Linked DNA regions of Homo sapiens. The protein of the gene in region 1 interacts with the protein of each later gene in a pairwise test. Each region holds a gene or a part of one and is shown in the gene's direction. Other genes may lie near its edges. The genes, in order: NMRAL1 and ASS1.

What was found.
Region 2: the proteins of NMRAL1 (region 1) and ASS1 interact in binary tests that used the Homo sapiens proteins (3 or more experiments, as listed by UniProt).

Annotation. Positions count from the first base shown.
Region 1 is NC_000016.10:4,468,082-4,471,889, reverse strand, and holds part of NMRAL1 (nmrA-like family domain-containing protein 1), read left to right. Parts: intron 1-474; exon of another isoform or gene 475-576; intron 577-2,191; exon of another isoform or gene 2,192-2,296; coding exon of another isoform or gene 2,297-2,386; intron 2,387-2,424; coding exon 2,425-2,663; intron 2,664-3,808. UniProt on the Homo sapiens protein: Redox sensor protein. Undergoes restructuring and subcellular redistribution in response to changes in intracellular NADPH/NADP(+) levels.
Region 2 is NC_000009.12:130,458,461-130,462,268, forward strand, and holds part of ASS1 (argininosuccinate synthase), read left to right. Parts: coding exon 1-129; intron 130-3,808. UniProt on the Homo sapiens protein: One of the enzymes of the urea cycle, the metabolic pathway transforming neurotoxic amonia produced by protein catabolism into inocuous urea in the liver of ureotelic animals.

The DNA of each region.
Region 1 (3,808 bases):
CTGCCTAGGCTGGTCTCAAACTCCTGGCCTCAAGCAAAACCCATCCCCCTTACCCTCCCAAAGTGCTTAGATTACAGCTATGAGCTACTGTGCCCGGCCTCAGTCCTTATTTTTGATGCATTTCTGTGTAAATTGCAGATATGTGTACACCGCCCTTCCATACTAAAGCATGCATAACATTAGCTAGAATTCAGTATTTGTTTATAGATTATTTTTAATTATGAGGTAAAATATACATATAATAAAGAATTTTTTTTTTTTTTTTTTTTTGGAGACAGGGCCTTACTCTGTTACCCAGGCTGGCGTGCAGTGGTGTGATCACGGCTCACTGCAGCCTCAACCTCCTGGGTTCAGGCTTTCCTCCAGCCTCAGCCTCCCTGGTAGCTGGGACTACAGGCACATGCCACCACGCCCAGCTAATTTTTGGTTTTTTTTTGTAGAGATATGGTTTCACCATGTTGCCCAGGCTGGTCTCAAACTCCTGAGCTCAAGAGATCTGCGTGCCTCAGCCTCCCAAAGTGTCTGGATTACAGGCATGAGCCCCTGGGCCCAGCTGCAACGCGCAAAATCTTAAGGGTACATCTGACCGATGCGCATGCCTGTGTGACTCAAGCTCCATCGAGATCTGAATAAGTTTTTGTATTCCTTTCTGTTAACTATTTTTCTTTGTCTCGTTTTTGAGCAGATCTGAATATGGTTGTGTATCTGAATATGGCTTTATATTCTACTTCAGGAAGAATTCAAATCCCATCAAGATCTGAATATGGTTTTTTCTTTTGTTTTGAGACAGAGTCTCACTGTGTCACCCAGGCTGGAGTGCAGTGGCCCAATCTCGGCTCACTGCAACCTCTGCCACCCTGGTTCAAGCGATTCTCCTGCCTCAGCCTCCCAAGTAGCTGGGATTACAGGCTCCACCATGCCCAGCTAATTTTTTTTTTTTTTTGAGACGGAGTCTTGCTCTGTCGTCCAGGCTGGAGTGCAGTGGCGCGATCTCGGCTCACTGCAAGCTCCACCTCCTGGGTTCATGCCATTCTCCTGCCTCAGTCTCCCGAGTAGCTGGGACTACAGGCGCCCGCCACCACGCCCGGCTAAGTTTTTGTATTTTTAGTAGAGACAGGGTTTCACCGTGTTAGCCAGGATGGTCTCGATCTCCTGACCTCATGATCCGCCCGCCTCGGCCTCCCAAAGTGCTGGGATTACAGTTGTGAGCTACTGCACCCGGCCTCATTTTTTTATTTTTAGTAGAGACGGGGTTTCACCATCTTGGCTAGGCTGGTCTTGAGCTCCTGACCTCGTGATCCACCTGTCTCAGCCTCCCAAAGTGCTAGGATTACAGCCACTGCACCCAGCCTGAATATGGTTTTGTATTCTACTTTTTTTACTTTATTACATCACAAATATTTTTACCTTTATTTTTTTGAGACCAAGTTTCGCTCTTGTTGCCCAGGCTGGAGTGCAATGGCGCGATCTCGGCTCACCGCAACCTCTGCCTCCTGGGTTCAAGCGATTCTCCTGCCTCAGCCTCTCGAGTAGCTGGGATTACAGGCATGTGCCACCACGCCTAGCTAATTTTGTATTTTTAGTAGAGACAGTGGTTTCTCCATGTTGGTCGGGCTGTTCTCAAACTCCCAACTTCAGGTGATCTACCCCCCTCGGCCTCTCAAAGTGCTAGGATTACAGGTGTGAGCCACTGCACCAGGCCCTTTTTTTTTTTTTTTTTTTTTTTTTGAGAGGGAATCTCACTTTGTCACCCAGGCTGGAGTGCAGTGGCGTGATCTGGGCTCACTGCAACCTCCGCCTCCTGTGTTCAAGCGATTCTCCTGCCTTAGCCTCCTGAGTAGCTGTGACTACAGGCGGGTGCCACCACGCCCGGCTAAGTTTGTATTTTTAGCAGAGACAGGGTTTCACTGTGTTAGCCAGGATGGTCTCGGTCTCCTTACCTGGTGATCCACTCGGCCTGGCCTCCCAAAGTGCTGTGATTACAGGCGTGAGCCACCATGCCTGGCCTTTTTTTTTTTTTTTTAATACAGATTCTCGCTGTGTCACCCAGGCTGTGGTGCAGTGGCGCAATCTCAGCTCACTGCAACCTCCGCCTCCTGGGTTCCAGCAATTCTCGTGCCTCAGCCTCCTGAGTAGCTGGGAGTACAGGCATGTGCCTTCACACCCAGCTAATTTTTGTATTTTTTGATAGAGGCGGGGTTTCACCAAGCCAAGATCGTGCCACTGCACTTCAGCCTGGGTGATAGAGTGAGACTCCATCTCAAAAAAATAAAATAAAGAAAATAAAAATACCTGAATGAGAATCGTCGTTGAGAAGGTTTCCTGGATGCTCCTTGCTGTGGTGGAGCACTCCCTTCGGGGTTTCGCCCTTCAGTGGGACTTTCAGGTAGGTCTGACCTGAGAGGTCTTTTTGATTCTTTGTAGGTGCCCAGGGTGGCTCCGTGGCCCGCACACTCCTGGAAGATGGGACATTCAAGGTTCGAGTGGTGACCCGAAACCCTAGGAAGAAGGCAGCAAAGGAGCTGAGGCTGCAAGGTGCAGAAGTAGTGCAGGGAGACCAAGATGACCAGGTCATCATGGAGCTGGCCCTGAATGGGGCTTACGCCACCTTCATCGTGACCAATTACTGGGAGAGCTGCAGCCAGGAGCAGGAGGTCAAGCAGGTGAGGGCAGGCAGGAGCTGCAGGGAGGCCCGGCCAGGCTAGGAGCAGAGCGCCTGGGAGGAGCTCCGACTCTGCAGGGAGGTTGGAGCACTGCAGGCCTTTCCCTCTTCTTCATGCCTCTGCCTGCTCTAGGCTGTGAAGCAGGTGGACGCTGTTGCTTTCTCATCCAATTACTTTTTTTTTGTTTGTTTGAGGCCGTCTCAGTCTCCGTGAGCAACCACGCCTGGCCTGTTCGTTTGTTTTTTTTTTTTTTAATCAAAAATGTTAGAAGTTTTTTTTAAAAAGTAATTTCCACTTTTATTTTAGATTCAGGGGTACATGCACAGGTTTGTTACATTGGTATATTGAGTGATGCTGAGGTCTGGGGTGTGACTGGACCTGTCACCCAGGTAGTGGGCACAGTACCCAGTAGGTAGGTTTTCAACCCTTGCCTCCCTCCCTCCCGTGGTTCCCAGTGTCTGTTGTTGCCTTCATGTCCACGTGTACCCATCCAAACTTGTTATTAGCCTTGACCCTTTCTTCAATTATGGTCTTACCTAGAAGCCCATTATATAGAGCAGACAAAGACAACTTCTCTGATTAACGCAGATCTTTTTTTTTTTTTTTTTTTTGAGACTGAGTCTTGCTCTGTCGCCCAGGCCGGAGTGCAGTGGGGTGATCTCGGCTCACTGCAACCTCTGCCTCCCAGATTCAAGCAATTCTTCTGCCTCAGCCTCCCGAGTAGCTGGGATTATAGGTGTGTACCAGCACACCCAACTAATTTTTGTATTTTTAGTAGAGGCGGGGTTTCACCATGTTGGCCAGGCTGGTCTTGAACTCCTGACCTCAGGTGATCCGCCCACCTCGGCCTCCCAAAGTGCTGGGATTACAGGCGTAAGCCACATGCCCGGCCCTGAGCTGATCTTATTTCTTTCTTTATTTTTTGAGGCCGAGTTTCGCTTTTGTTGCCCAGGCTGGCATGCAATGGCGCAATCTTGGCTCACCGCAACCTCCGCCTCCTGGGTTCAAGTTATTCTCCTGCCCCAGCCTCCCGAATAGCTGAGATTACATGCATGCGTCACCATGCCCTGGTAATTTTTTTGTATTTTTAGTACAGACGGGGTTTCTCCATGTTGGTCAAGCTGGTCTCTAACTCCCGGCCTCAG
Region 2 (3,808 bases), on another chromosome or scaffold:
TCCAGCGCACTGTATGAGGACCGCTACCTCCTGGGCACCTCTCTTGCCAGGCCCTGCATCGCCCGCAAACAAGTGGAAATCGCCCAGCGGGAGGGGGCCAAGTATGTGTCCCACGGCGCCACAGGAAAGGTGAGGCACCTGGGAAGGGCCGGGCAGAGGGAGATGGAGGCGGAGGGGTGTGGGAAGGAGATGAGCACCCCTCGAGCGGTTTCCTGGTGTGCCTCCGGGGCAGACTTGGTGCAAGGCAGCTACATGGCTTTGTTTAGACCCCAATGAGAGGGGTAACAGCTCGCCCCTGCGCTCTGTGCACTGTGGCACCTGAACGCCCATTCTGAGTCCTCACCTCCACCTTCTGCTGTGGGAGCGATGTCACCCCATTTGGCAGACTTGCTGCTGAGGCCTGGGGACATTGTCCAAGGTCGCATTGGCCAAGGTCACTGCGTGAGTCCCCCAGGGGACACGCAGGAAAGTGTTGAAAACCCTGAGTTGGCAGAGTAGGGTTCAAAGGCAGCTCTGCTGCTGGCTTGCCGTGTGTCCTCAGCCAGGGCCCTTCTCCCCTTCCTGAACCTCAGTTTCTTCATTTGCAAGATGGGGCTCATGCCATGTCTTAGTTTCCCAGGGCGAGGGTAACAAAATGTCTCAAACTGGTGGCTTAGAACACAGAACTGTTCTGCCTCATGGTTCTGGAGGCCTGAGGTCCATAGTGAGGGCATGGGCAGGGCCACGCAGCCTCTGAAGGTGCCAGGAAGCCTCCGGCTCAGGCCTCTCTCCAGCTTCCAGTGGCCTCTGGTGTCCCTTAGCGTGTGGCTGCGTCACTCCTGTCCTTCCGTCCTCCATCTTCCCAAGCTGTCTTCTTCCTGTATCTCTGCATTGTCTTCCCTCTGCTTGTCTGTTTACCTTCCCCTTGCTACAGGAACCCGTCTTGGATTAGGGCCCTTCAATGACCTCATCTTAACTTGGTTACTTTTTGTGTGTGTGTGTGGGGGAGAGGGACAAAGTCTCACTCTGACGCCCAGGCTGGAGTGCAGTGGCTCGATCTTGGCTCACTGCAACCTCTGCCTCCCAGATTGAAGCAATTCTCCTGCCTCAGCCTCCTGAGTAGCTGGGATTACAGGTGTGTACCCCACCACACCCGGCTAATTTTTTGTATTTTTAGTAGAGACGGGGTTTCGCCATGTTGGGCAGGCTGGTCTTGAACTCCTGACCTCAAATGATCCACCAGCCTTGGCCTCCCAAAGCACTGGGATTACAGGCGTGGGCCACCATGCCCAGCCTTAACTTGGTTATTTCTGTTAAGACCACATGAGGCCACATTCGGAGGGACTGGGGTTAGGACTTGAACCCATTATTTTGTGGAAACACAAATCAACCCATCCCGTACCCCTTCCCTCCGGGCCGTGTGTCCCAGTGCAGACTGCGGGGTCCCCGTGGGGTGCAAGACAGGAAGCCCCCTGCCTGCTGCTCTTCGGAAGGCAGTCCTTGAGAAACCAGATTCCTGACAATGTTGGCAACTGTCAGCCGATGTTTTTATAAAGACCCAAGTCATGAGCTCTCAGTCAGCGGACAGCATGCCAAGAGCCTGGTACAGGAATTGACTGTTTACCAACCCCACAGTCAGAAGGCTCGGAAACTCCCCAGTGACGGGGAGCTCACTACCTCGCCTGCCCGGGCTGGTCAGGGTGCTGATGGTGGGAAGTCCTGGCTCACTGTGGGAGGTCCTGGCTCACTGTGGTGCAGGGACACACACAGCTAAGATGATGATGGAGGAGACGCGGTTGATTTGAGGGTGGCCTGGGAGACAGCCACCCACCAGGATGGCACCTGTCATGTCTTTGAAAGTCCAAGTGTTCATTTCTTCACCGGAGCACTGGTTCAGCAAGCTTGCACTGGGTATCTGCTGGGAGTTGGGTGCTTGCTGGCATTGGCACAGTGCTAACTTCTTGGGCTCATTGCGTACCTTCAGAGAGCCCATTTCCTGGCAAGAGAAGAGAAAATGGATGTGTGATGAGGAATGGGAGTGGGGCCAGGGGTCTGTGCCAGGGAACTGCGGGAGCAGCAGGCAGGGGCTGAGGATGAGTCTAGAGGAGTGAATAATGGCATGGAAGAGTGTGAGAGGCAGAGGGAACAGCCTGTGGAAAGGCTTAGAGCCAAGAGGCCCTGAAGGACAGTCTGTCTGGGGCTGTGGAGCAGGAGCTATTGCTGTGGGGGAGGCAATAGGGCCAGGACTGGGCTGAGGCCATGCTGGGAGGTTTGGCTTCATCCTGAGGGCAACTGATTAGTGGGTGGAAGGAGGTCTCAGGTTGGATGGAGGTGGCCAGTGACTACCCCAGCGAGATGCTGGGGAAGAGACAGGGGAGAGCTTCTCACAGACTGCGGCCTTGGTTTTTACTGTCACTCCAGCTGTGGATGATGGGATGGTAGGAAACCAGGCAAGGAGGTTTGGGCGGGCCTGAGCTGTTGGGCAGGACCGTGTGTATGCTGCCATCTGTGCAAAGGTGGTGGCAGAGGAGGAGAACCCAGAGGATCAGGACTGGGCGACACAGCGAGACTCTGTCCCAAACAAAAAAAAAAGCTCCCGACCCATCTGCCTTAATGGAAAGAGCTGGATCGTGAGCTTCCTATCCCAGAAGGCATACAAGCCGAGGGCAGGGGATCAGAATTCTGGGAGGGGTCCTGCCCTCAGGTCTTTCCAACGGTACCATTAAGGTTCAGTAGGGCGGCATTCAGGTCTGGTGGAGTGCATGGGTGGGTGGGTGAGTATGGGTGGGTCGGCTCTGGCTCAGGCAGTTCCCGGGTCCATGCGGAGACCCCCACCCCGGACCAGCCCACATTTAGCCTGCAACAGCCTCCCGCAGCCGTGTGCGCCCCTCCTCCATGTGGCCACCAGAGGGCGCCAGAGGCTTGGGTTTGAGGCCTTGGGGGCCGACAAAGGCGGGAGGAGGTGGCGGCACCACCGGGGTCCTCTGTTCCCCATCCTGGACCTGCAGGGCGTGGTTCTGAGGAGAACGCCCCCCAAGCTAGTGCTATGGCCGCTCGGGACTTGGGGGCGTCCCTGCATTCACACTCAGAAGACCCAACAGGGACGGACTCCGGGGATGCCGGGGAGTAGGTGCTACCTGGCACAGCCACCTCTTTCCTGGGGTTGACAGGCAAGGCGTACTTCTGCGCCTCAGTGTCCCTTTATGACAGTACCCAGGAAACCCCCAACAGCCTCTGGAGACAATTTCCGAGAACTGGGGGTATGAGTGGAGAACCAGGAAGGCTGGGAGCGAGGGGAATCCAAGGCCTTGGAGGTGCTGGTCCAGCCTTCAGGCATTTACCCCCTGAGTAACCACCCAGCACCACCATCCCATGAGTATCCACCCAGCACTGCCCCGGGCGCCATCACGGGGGACGGGCCAGGTGGAGGCTTTCGGGTCTTTGGGCTCAGGGAAGGTGACAGTGAAATGTTGGGGGGACAACGGATTGGCCTGGGATGTGAGGGGGAAGGGCATCCTGTTTGCTGGAACCGCCTGAGCCCAGCCCTGAAGGCAGAGGCGGAGGCAGCCTCCCTTCCCAGCACCCCGTCCAGACAGCACCTGGTGCAGAAATTGAGCCGCACTCTCCCCTCCCATGCCCTGCTGCCAGCCCCACCCCTGCCCACCCAGAGAGCTGCACCGAAGCTGGGGTGGCCCTTGCGGGGCTCCTCTCTCCCCCTAGTTTTGGAAGAGGGGCCTGGAAATATGATTCTGAGACTCTAGCCGGGGAGCGAGAGTTTTGTAAATGGCACCATCTGTATGGGTGCCCCAGGGCAGATGGGAGACCCCAG